Homo sapiens: one gene and its partners. The protein of the gene in region 1 purifies or fractionates together with the protein of each later gene. This does not show direct contact. Each region holds a gene or a part of one and is shown in the gene's direction. Other genes may lie near its edges. The genes, in order: RRP15, RPF2 and PAK1IP1.

The links.
Region 2: the proteins of RRP15 (region 1) and RPF2 fractionate together in Homo sapiens (co-fractionation; one large-scale study listed by BioGRID). This does not show direct contact.
Region 3: the proteins of RRP15 (region 1) and PAK1IP1 fractionate together in Homo sapiens (co-fractionation; one large-scale study listed by BioGRID). This does not show direct contact.

What each region holds. Positions count from the first base shown.
Region 1 is NC_000001.11:218,288,211-218,291,864, forward strand, and holds part of RRP15 (RRP15-like protein), read left to right. Parts: intron 1-3,654.
Region 2 is NC_000006.12:111,012,976-111,016,629, forward strand, and holds part of RPF2 (ribosome production factor 2 homolog), read left to right. Parts: exon of another isoform or gene 1-613; intron 614-2,778; coding exon 2,779-2,881; intron 2,882-3,654. UniProt on the Homo sapiens protein: Involved in ribosomal large subunit assembly. May regulate the localization of the 5S RNP/5S ribonucleoprotein particle to the nucleolus.
Region 3 is NC_000006.12:10,701,360-10,705,013, forward strand, and holds part of PAK1IP1 (p21-activated protein kinase-interacting protein 1), read left to right. Parts: intron 1-1,009; coding exon 1,010-1,130; intron 1,131-1,205; coding exon 1,206-1,280; intron 1,281-2,045; coding exon 2,046-2,098; intron 2,099-3,147; coding exon 3,148-3,293; intron 3,294-3,387; coding exon 3,388-3,485; intron 3,486-3,654. UniProt on the Homo sapiens protein: Negatively regulates the PAK1 kinase. PAK1 is a member of the PAK kinase family, which has been shown to play a positive role in the regulation of signaling pathways involving MAPK8 and RELA.

The sequences.
Region 1 (3,654 bases):
GGCAATTGCAAAATTCTATGTTAGGATCTGCACTAGGACACAGCAGTGAAGACAGAGAAGGGCCCCACTTGAAATATTTTTCAAAAAGAAAGTATTCAATTTTGCAAACAGGCAACTTTCATGTGAGCTTATAGCACCATAGGTTTTGGGCATACTACACTGTTAGAGGAATTGGATAATAACAATAGTTATACTTTTGGAACTTTCCTATGTGCCTGGTTCTGTTCTGAGTTCCTTCTATATATCAGCTCAGAGAATTCTGACAACTCTATGAGATAGATGCTGCTATTATCCTCCTGTTACATTTAAAAAACTGAGGCACAGAGGCTTATAACTTGCCCACTTCTGTACATAAGCAGATAAGCAAGTTGATAAATGATACAACAATTATTGAAGTTTGATTGTAGAGCTTATGCTCTTGACCACTACCTTAATATGTTTGAGGAATCAGGAGGACATAGATAATTTTAAAAAGTATCTGGAAAGTGAAAGCGTTGGGCCTTTGAATCTAAGGAAAGAAAGGATTGGGGACAAGGAGACTTTGGTATGGAGACAAACTTTTCTCCCTCCCACTCAAGAAGATTTCATCACCAAGGGACATTTTTGTGTTCAGATTTCTATAGCACTTCCAATGTTTATAACCAGAGTATTCTTTCCTTCCTTCCTTTCTCCTAAAATCCATATGTTATTTCTGGAAGCAAATTCCCCTGTTCACTCAATTGTATAAGAGGCACCTGTGATGGTACTACCTTTCAGAGTGACTTTGTGCTAGTTATTATTATCTACCCCAATTTCCTCATCTACAAAATGAGGATAATAATAATGTCTACTTTAGGATTGTTGTAACAATTAAATGAGTTTATATATGGTAAGCATTTAATATTTGGCACATGGTACCCACTCATAAATATTAGTGATGACGATGATGTCTCTTCTGACCTAAAAAAACTGCTAGTCCCATCTCTTTTTGCCAAATAAGTTTTCCCACCTTTGGTAATGTGGTATTTGTAAGCTGGAGCTCTCCCCAGAAAAGAGGTTTGAATTATTCTAGTAACCCTGTAAGGTAGCTGATGGCATTTCTATTTTACAGATAAGAAAAGAAGCTTGGAAATAGTGCTTCCAGTATATCATATTGCTTCCTAGTAGAAAACTGTTACCTCCATAGGTGCAAGATGTTATCTGTTATTCCACTCGTTTTATTCCATAATCTAACCATTAGATCATATATTTTTGGTAAAATTCAAGATCAGTGATAACGATGTTGATAACAATTGATTGTGTCTGCTTGGTTATGCCATAGACACATTTTCTTTGCCAAAGCTGCTTCTGTCTCTAAGAAAGACACTGCCATCTACTCCCATCCAAGCTGGAAACACAAGTGTCATCCTTTAGTCTTCCTGTTGCTTCCATATCTATTTGGTTTAATTAATCCATTTATTCTGTTGCCACTACTTTAGTTCTTGCCCGCATCTCTCTCTCTCTCTTTTTTGAGATGGAGTTTTGCTCTTGTTGCCCAGGCTGGAGTGCAATGGTATGATCTCAGGTCACCCCAACCTCCACCTCCAGGGTTCAAGTGATTCTTCTGCCTCAGCCTCCCAAGTAGCTGGGATTACAGGCATGCACCACCACACCCAGCTAATTTTGTATTTTTAGTAGAGACAGAGTTTCTCCATGTTGGTCAGGCTGGTCTTGAACTCCTGACCTCAGGTGATCCACCCACCTTGGCCTCCCAAAGTGCTGGGATTACAGGCATGAGCCACTGTGCCTGGCCTTGCCTGCATCTCTTTTGTTTACATTAGTTCATAGGGTACCTATCTGTTGGGCCTGTCATTGCAGCCTTACTCCCTTCAGTCTTCTAGGCAATTGCTTCTTTAACCATCAATGTTGAAGGACCATTCTGAGTTTTGTTTTTTAATCTCCAATCTGTAATAGACAGGTGTTTTTTTTAAAAAAAATCAATGAAAAAGAGTAACTGGAAACATGACCACATTGTTGGACATCATGGTAATATCAAATTACTATAAATGTTTATAAATACTTACTCTCAATTTGTGAATTCGCAGTTGATTCTAGTTACAGTAATGTTCAGTAAAGTTGCAGGAAACCCTGAATCCCTGAATTAGTGAACCATTGCTTCTAGAGGAAATACAGTTTTAGGCTCCTGTGAGCCTCTGGTCAGAACATTTTTGTCATTTTATCAATACATAACCTTGTCTTATGTGGATTTTTTTTGGGTTTTTTGTTTGTTTGTTTGTTTTTGTTTTTGTTTTCTGAAACAAGATCTGGCTCTATTACCCAGGCTGCTGGAGTGCAGTGGTGCAATCTTGGCTCACTGCAACCTCTGCCTGTTAGGCTCAAGCCATCCTCCCACCTCAGCCTCTGGATTAGCTGGGACTATAGGCGTACACTACCCACACCTGGCTGATTTTTGTATTTTTGGAAGAGATGAGGTTTTGCCATGTTGCTCAGACTGGTCTTGAACTCATGAGCTCAATTGATCTGCCTGCCTTGGCCTCCCAAAGTGCTGGGATTACAGGCATGAGCCACTGCTCCCAGCCTTATGTGTGTTTTTGTTTGAAGACAAAGAAGAGCTCCACTTGAAATGGTTTTCAGAAAGAAAGTGTTTGATTTTCCTTGGCCACATGCGGGGGGCATACATCTGTAATCTCAGCACTTTGGAGGCTGAGGTGGGAGGATTGCTTGAACCCAGGAGTCTGAGGCCAGCCTAGGCAACATAGTGAGACCCCGTCACTACAAAAAAAATGGAAAAAACTAGCTGGATATGGTGGTGTGTGCCGTGTGCCTGTAATCCCAGCTACTTGGGAGGCTAAGGTGGGAGGGTTGCTTGAGCCTGGGAGTTCGAGACTGCAGTGAGCTGTGACTGTGCCACTGTACTCCAGCCTGGGTGACACAGCATGACCCTGTCCCAAAAAATAAAAAATTTAGACTGGACATGGTGGCTCACACCTGTAATCCCAGCACTTTGGGAGGCCAAGGTGGGCAGATCACTTAAAGTCAGGAATTTGAGACCAGCCTGGCTAACATGGCAAAACCCATCTCTACCAAAAAAAAAATATACAAAAAATTAGCCCAACATGGTGGTGTATGCCTGTAGTGCCAGCTACTTGTGAGGCTAAGGCATAAGAATCACTTGAACCTGGGAGGCAGAGGTTGCAGTGGGCCAAGATTGTGCCACTGCACTCCAGCCTGGCTGACAGAGTGAGACTCTGTCTCAAAAATGAATAAATAAATTTTAAAAACAAAACTCTGAGATTAAAGAAAAAGGAAAAAAAAAAGAAAGAAATCATTGAATTTTCCTTTTTTTTTTTTTTTTTTTTTTGAGATGGAGTCTCGTTCTGTTGCCAGGCTGGAGTACAGTGGTGCTATCTCGGTTCACCACAACCTCCGCCTCCCAGGTTCAAGCAATTCTTCTGCCTCAGCCTTCCGAGTAGCTGGTACTACAGGCACGTGCCACCACGCCCGGCTAATTTTTGTATTTTTAGTAGAGACGGGGTTTCAACATGTTGGCCAGGATAGTCTGGATCTCTTGACCTCATGATACACCCACCTTGGTCTCCCAAAGTGTTGGGATTACAGGCGTGAGCCACCGCGGCTGGCCCCCCACTCCCCACCCCCTTTTTTTTTAAGACAAAG
Region 2 (3,654 bases), on another chromosome or scaffold:
TTATTTATACAGTATTATTATACTTTAGGTTATCAAGTTCATAAAGTTATTTATCATACTTCTTGGTCAAAATCCTAACAGTGTATATACCACTTGCATGACGTCTTTCCCAACTAGAAATGATCTTTCTCTCCTCAGAACTTCCAGAATGGTTTATACTGTTCTCCTTTTAATGTGCTACTTTAAATTGCAGTTGTTTGTATGTATTCATATCTACCTAGAATGCAGGGCCCCTGATAGAAAAATGCTATATGTCATTTATCACTTTGCATAATAGGTGCTCTGGTACAATTTATTAAGTGAATGGATTCTTGCCAATGGTATTCATGTGTAAACAATACTCTGTTGTGTTCTAGCCAGAAAATATCATGCTGTTAGACATATTTGCTTTCCGGTTACTAAGTACTACCATTTATGCCCTCCCGTTTTCATTCATTACTTGTTTGTGTTACCTTGATGATTTGCAAACTTTAGTGAAATTTCAGTTTGGCAGTTAAGAGAAAATGTTGTAATAAAAGGATGGCTGGTTAGAACTATTGGATACAGACTGAAAATCCTTTTATATTCATAGTCTTAGAAATTTTGACTTAATAAAGAGTACTTTTCCATGTGCTTATTGTGTTCCTAAAGTTTTCTCCCAAAGCACAGATGTCCTGAAAATTTTGCATTATGAAAGTTGTTTCAGAGCAGACTGGAATGTACATATTTCGTTTCCCAGAAGTACTCTGACTTCAGTAATGCCACACCAATGAGTGAGCTTTATTAACTTGGCCACTGAAGGAGAGTCAGGCTTTGGCAAAATCATGGGAAAGCTCTTTATTATGATATTTAGATTAAAATATCTTGAAAAGTACAAACTTGTTTTATAAAAATGTCCCAGGCCAGGCGTGGTGGCTCAAACCTGTAATCCCAGCACTTTGAGAGACCAAGGCAGGAGGAGTGCTTGAGTCTAGGAGTTCGAAACCAGCCTGGGCAACATAGTGAGACCCCATCCGTACATAATATATGTATAAATATATGTAGTATATGTACTTTTTTTAAATTAAAAATGTTCATTAGTTTTTTTTTTTTCTTGTTTGGGGGAGTAGAGGAGGGTGGTGTATAAATGTGCCTGCCCACTTGTGTTTGTTTTATACAAGTTAATGCTGTGTTTTTTGTTTTTTGGGTTTTTTTTTTTTTGAGACTGAGTCTCACACTGTCGCCCAGGCTGGAGTACAGTGGCGCAATCTCGGCTCACTGCAATCTCCGCCTCCCAGGTTCAAGTGATTCTCCTGCCTCAGCCTCCCAAGTAGCTAGGGAGGCACTTGCCACCACACCTGGCTAATTTTTTGTGGTTTTAGTAGAGATAGGGTTTCACTGTGTTAGCCCCTATGGTCTTGATCTCCTGACCTCATGATCTGCTCGCCTCGGCCTCCCAAAGTGCTGGGATTACAGGCATGAGCCACTGCACCTGGCCTGTGATTTTCTTTTGGTTAAGCACAAGAAAGGAAAAGCAGACAACAAAAGATGCGTTCATCTGTGCACATGGAGATAATCTGCATCTTATGGGCTAATGGGAAGCAGGAAGGAAAATGCTAGGTGGCTACAGAATGGGACTAGAACAGAATTTCCCACTTACTACATCACCTGCCTTGGGCAGCTCTTCCTAAGCAAACTTGGATAAACTTTTATATAGACCTTTTATCTTAGCCAAATGTTATTCATGAATTTCCATTTAGCCTCCTTGAGGTTCGATTTTCTCAGCTGTAAAATTAAGATATCACACTTGTTTTCCAAACTTCTTTCATAGCCAAGTCTGTGTAGTATCCTTAGCGTGCAGTTCACTGGAGATTTTCTTTTAATTGACTCCTCTTTTTAAGTTATTGTTTGAGACAGGGTTTTGCTCTGTCGTTCTCACTGAGTCCAGTGGTGGGATCAGCAATCCTCCCACCTTAGCCTCTCCAGTAGCTGGGACTACAACCTGGCTAATTTTTTATACTTTTAGTGGAGATGAGGTTTCACCATGTTGCCCAGCCTGGCCTCAAACTCCTGAGCTTAAGCAATTCGCCCGCCTCAGTCTCCCAAAGTGCTGGGATGACAGGCATGAGCCACTGTGCATGGCTGACTACTCTTTTTAAAAGGAAATTTTATGTCCCTATTGTAAATGGAGAATGGTACAGGATAAAATAAATACGTAGTAAATTATATCTGGCTTTGTATCATTAAAATGCTCTCATGTGCCACCGGTGGTATGATTACCACTTTGTGAGAAAAAAGACTATCACTGATATGCAAGGTTCTTTTCTGGCATTAACAGTTTATAAAGTTTCTTATCCTTTGTTCATATAATCAAGATTTCTTATTAGAGTTTTTTTCTTGTTGGCCTCCCTCATAGAAAAAAAAATTAAGGCTAATTTGATTTTAATAGTCAATTTGAACAGCCATTTTTATAGAAATTTGCTATCTTCATCTACCAGTAGATTAAAATTTTATGCTTTGATTTACATTTTTTAAAAGTTAGTATTTTTAATGGATATGATTTTTTGATGCTGAGCTGACTCAGAGGAAGAACTTCAAAACAGAAACATTAAATGTCTCAGTGAACTGAACACCAAAATACCAAAATAAAGTCATGAGATTAAATGCTTAAGGGGTGGGACCTTCAGACATTTTTCAGGAATCATTTTTTGTGCTTTTTTAGATAAGTATTGGAGCAAAACTGTTTAGAGTGCAGTTCTTTGTAACTGAATTTTGCAAGTATTTGTTTTGTTTTGTTAATAATTTAATATGTGCTTTTAGATTTCTTCAGAGGCCCCACAGTATCAAATATCCGCCTGGCTGGATTAGAGTATGTTCTGCACTTCACTGCACTGAATGGGAAGATTTACTTTCGAAGCTATAAGTAAGTGCATTTCTTCACATATTTTCTTAATCCTCAGGGTTAGTGTTTAAAACTGTGTGACTGTTTTTTAGAGCCCAAACTTAGAATTGGTATCTGGCCAAAAGGTTTCTTGGAGAGTTGGCAGGATAGCAGTGACAGCAGCTCTGTGCTGATCCTCAGTCCTTTGCCTCTGAAACCCTACTTTTCCAGTGCCCCAGAGCATCTGATGCTGCACTGTCGCTGAGCCAGGTGCACCAACCCTTCCTAGCTTTATGCAGCATCTCTTTATTGTTCTTGGTTGGATTTACAGCACTAAGCCACAAATCCTTGGCTAGGCAAAGCAAATCTCAAAACCCTAAGTCTTAACAATTGAGTCTAAAAGGAATAAGAAGATTCAGTGGCTAGATTCATTTCACTCTGTCTCTCTAGCCTAGGCCTTCTACCCCTACCACAATATAAATATAAATCTTAAGCAGGCCGAGCATGGTGGCTCACACCTGTAATCTCAGCACTTTGGGAGGCTGAGGCAGGCAGATCACTTGAGGCCAGGAGTTCAAAACCAGCCTGGCCAACATGACGAAACCCCATCTCTACTAAAAAAAACCAGAAAAATTAGCCCAGCGTGGTGGCACATGCCTGTAGTTCCAGCTGCTCAGAAGGCTGAGGCACAAAAATCGCTTGAACCTGGGAGGTGGAAGTTGCAGTGAGCCATGATTGTGCCACTGCACTCCAGCCTGGGCAACAGAGTGAGGGCGCTGAAAAAACAAAAAACAAAAAACTCTTAAGCAGATTCT
Region 3 (3,654 bases), on another chromosome or scaffold:
AGCCACCTCGCCTAGCCAGTGTTTAATTTTCTCTTCCTGCATTAGTTTGCTGGGGATAATGGCTTCCAACTCCATCCACATCCCTGCAAAGGACATGATCTCATTCCTTTTTATGGGTGCATAAATCCTATTTTTCTAAGAGTTGCTAATAGATAAGCTTTTTTCTAGGGAAGCAAATGTGGGAAACCAAACTTTCCAAAGTGAGAAATAGGATAATAGGGAGAGGAAAATATGAACAAATGAATGAGAAGTGTGTGGAAATGGATCAAAACAGATCTGAGTGATAAGGATTGGATTGTGGCTGATTGGGTAGCTAATTCACTGTTTAGAAAGTGGAAGTCATGTGGCAGTACACCTGGTTTGTTCCCCAGATTAGCTTGTTAGCTGATTAGTTTTGTTTACTTCTGCTCAAACTATCCTAGCCAGCCACCTCCTAAATTTATAATTTGAAGACATAAAGCAAGGACGTGAACTGATTTGTTCAAATCTGTATCTAAACTGGAGATACTCTGCTGAAAATATTTGCATAGATTTGAACAACTGTACTTACATGAAAAAATTTAAGGTATGTTTTAGTAATATTAAGACATTGAGGCCAGGCACAGTGGCTCACACCTGTAATCCCAGCACTTTGGGAGGCTGAGGTGGGCAGATCACTTGGGCCCAGGAGTTCAAGACCAGCCTGGGCAACATGGCATGGTGAAACACTGTATCTACAAAAAATACAAAAATTAGCTAGGTATATTGATGTGCACCTGTAGTCCCAGTTACTCAGGAGGCTGAGGTGGGAAGATTGCTTGAACCCAGGAGGCAGAGGTTGCAGTGGGATAAGATCATGCCATAGCACTTCAGCCTGGGTAACAAGAGTGAAACCCTGCCTCAAAAAAAAAAAAAAGAAAAAGAAAAAAAGGTATTGAGTGTTTTACTTAGCATAGCATAGCCTTCAAATCAGAAATGGAGTTTGCATTTAAAATGAATATTATTTTTGCCTATTTTGGTTTTTCCATAGGTACAATAACTTGCCTGAAATTCTATGGCAACAGGCATTTAATCAGTGGAGCGGAAGATGGACTCATCTGTATCTGGGATGCAAAGAAATGGGAATGCCTGAAGTCAATTAAAGCTCACAAGTGAGTCGGGCTCTTTCCCTTTGGCATTCTCGATGTGCCAGTCAAGTTGGGGACTAACTTTTGGTTTCATTATAGAGGACAGGTGACCTTCCTTTCTATTCACCCATCTGGCAAGTTGGCCCTGTCGGTTGGTACAGATAAAACTTTAAGGTAAGTCATTAATGCTCAAGAGCATTTATCTAAGGTGTGTGTTTTACTACAGCTCTCCACCATCTAAAAATACTGTTATACAAGGGAAAGGTCAAAAGCTGGTGAACCTTTTCATAGTGGTTCATAGTGGTAGAATGAAAATGACAAGCTCTGTTTTCTTTCTTTTTTTTTTGAGACAGAGTCTCGCTCTGTCTCCCTGCTCTGTCGCCCAGGCTGGAGTGCGGCGGCGTGATCTTGGCTCACTGCAAGCTCCGCCTCCCAGGTTCATGCCATTCTCCTGCCTCAGCCTCCCAAGTAGCTGGAACTACAGGCGCCCACCACCACGCCCGGCTATTTTTTGTATTTTTAGTAGAGACGGGGTTTCACCGTGTTAGCCAGGATGGTCTTGATCTCCTGACCTCATGATCCGCCCGCCTCAGCCTCCGAAAGTGCTGGGATTACAGGCGTGAGCCACCACGCCCAGCCAACAAGCTCCGTTTTCAAACATGCAATTATGCTGCAGTCATCATAGCTGTGAATTGAAGATTTTAGAAAGGGAAACCTTTTGAAAATACAATGGATACGAGATGTTAAAGGGATATGGGAATGAAGCAAGTCTTAATCCTGCCTCATAATATTTCAAAATATTGCTGTAAGGAAGATAGCAGGTCTTCTAAATAGCCAATATTTAGTAAAATGTCACTTAAGTCTTCATTATGCTTGTTCTTTTACGCTTAGTAAAAGTTAGTTGGTGATCACACCGTAAGTGAGCTTCCTGTTTTGCAGAACGTGGAATCTTGTAGAAGGAAGATCAGCATTCATAAAAAATATAAAACAAAGTGAGTATTTTTGTTTGAAATGCAGGTTGAGCATTCCTAATCTGGAAATCTGAAATGCTCCAAAATCTGAAACTTTTTGAGCACTGATGTGGTGCCTCAAGTAGAAAATTCAACACCTTACCTCATGATGGGTCACAGTCAGAACCTTGTTTCATACACAAAATTATTTAAAATATTGTGTAAAATTACCTTCCGGCTAGGTGTATATGAAGCATAGATGAATTTCATGTTTAGACTTGAAACATGAGTTGCATGGGTTTTATCCTCGAGATATTTCATTGTATATATGCAGATATTCCAAAATCCAAAATCGTTCTGGTCCCAAGCATTTTGGATAAGGGATACTCAACCTGTATATTTTACAGTGACTTAATGGAATATGAATATAGATATACATTTTTACATGTGTGTATGTTACACATTTATTTCCCTGCATGGTGGTGGTTACCTCTGAGCAAATGCCTTGGGTTACTTTCTTTTCCCATTTTAGACTAGATTCTTTTTGTGGCTCTGCCACCTGCCTTTGATTTTTATTTTGTTTCATTTTATTTTATTTTATATTTTTTATTTTATTTTATTTTTTGAGATGGAGTCTCGCTCTATCACCCAGGCTGGAGTGCAGTGGCGCTATCTCAGCTCCCTACAACCTCTGCCTTCTGAGTTCGTTATTCTCCTGCCTCACCCTCCCAAGCAGCTGGGATTACAGGCGCGTGCCACCATGCTTGGCTAATTTTTTGTATTTTTTGGTAGAGAGATGGGGTTTCACCATGTTTGCCAGGCTGGTCTCAAACTCCTGGCCTTAAGTGATCCACCCACCTTGGCCTCCCAAAGTGCTGGCATTACAGGTGTGAGCCACTGCACCTGGCCCACCTTTGACTTTTTGAACCTAGATTATTTTCTAAAAAACTTGACTTGTAAAATGTGTTACGAAGATGAAATAGGATAATGAATTTGAAAATGCACAGTATAAATATTTGCTATTTTTATTACTATGATCATTTTATGTTTTATTTACAAAATAAATAAACTTCGTTTTTTTCCACTTACAGATGCTCACATAGTAGAATGGTCCCCAAGAGGAGAGCAGTATGTAGTTATCATACAGAATAAAATAGACATCTATCAGCTTGACACTGCATCCATTAGTGGCACCATCACAAATGAAAAGAGAATTTCCTCTGTTAAATTTCTTTCAGTAAGTAATCAGAAATCATTGACCAAAGTTTGTGGTGATGGTTGGAACTGTTGATGACATTCTGGATGTTATTACTCTTTTTCCTCTCTCCTAGGAGTCTGTCCTTGCAGTGGCTGGAGATGAAGAAGTTATAAGGTTTTTTGACTGTGATTCACTAGTGTGCCTCTGCGAATTTAAAGCTCATGAAAACAGGTATTTTTACCAATCTTTGGTGTATATGTCTAGTCTTAATAAAAGGTATATATGCAGTAGTTTCATAAGCCAGGTTATATGTTTTTATTAACAACTGCAGAAATAATCAGACATATCTACATGTACAGTATATGGTATCTGTAGTCTAATAAGGTGGTGGAAGATGTTA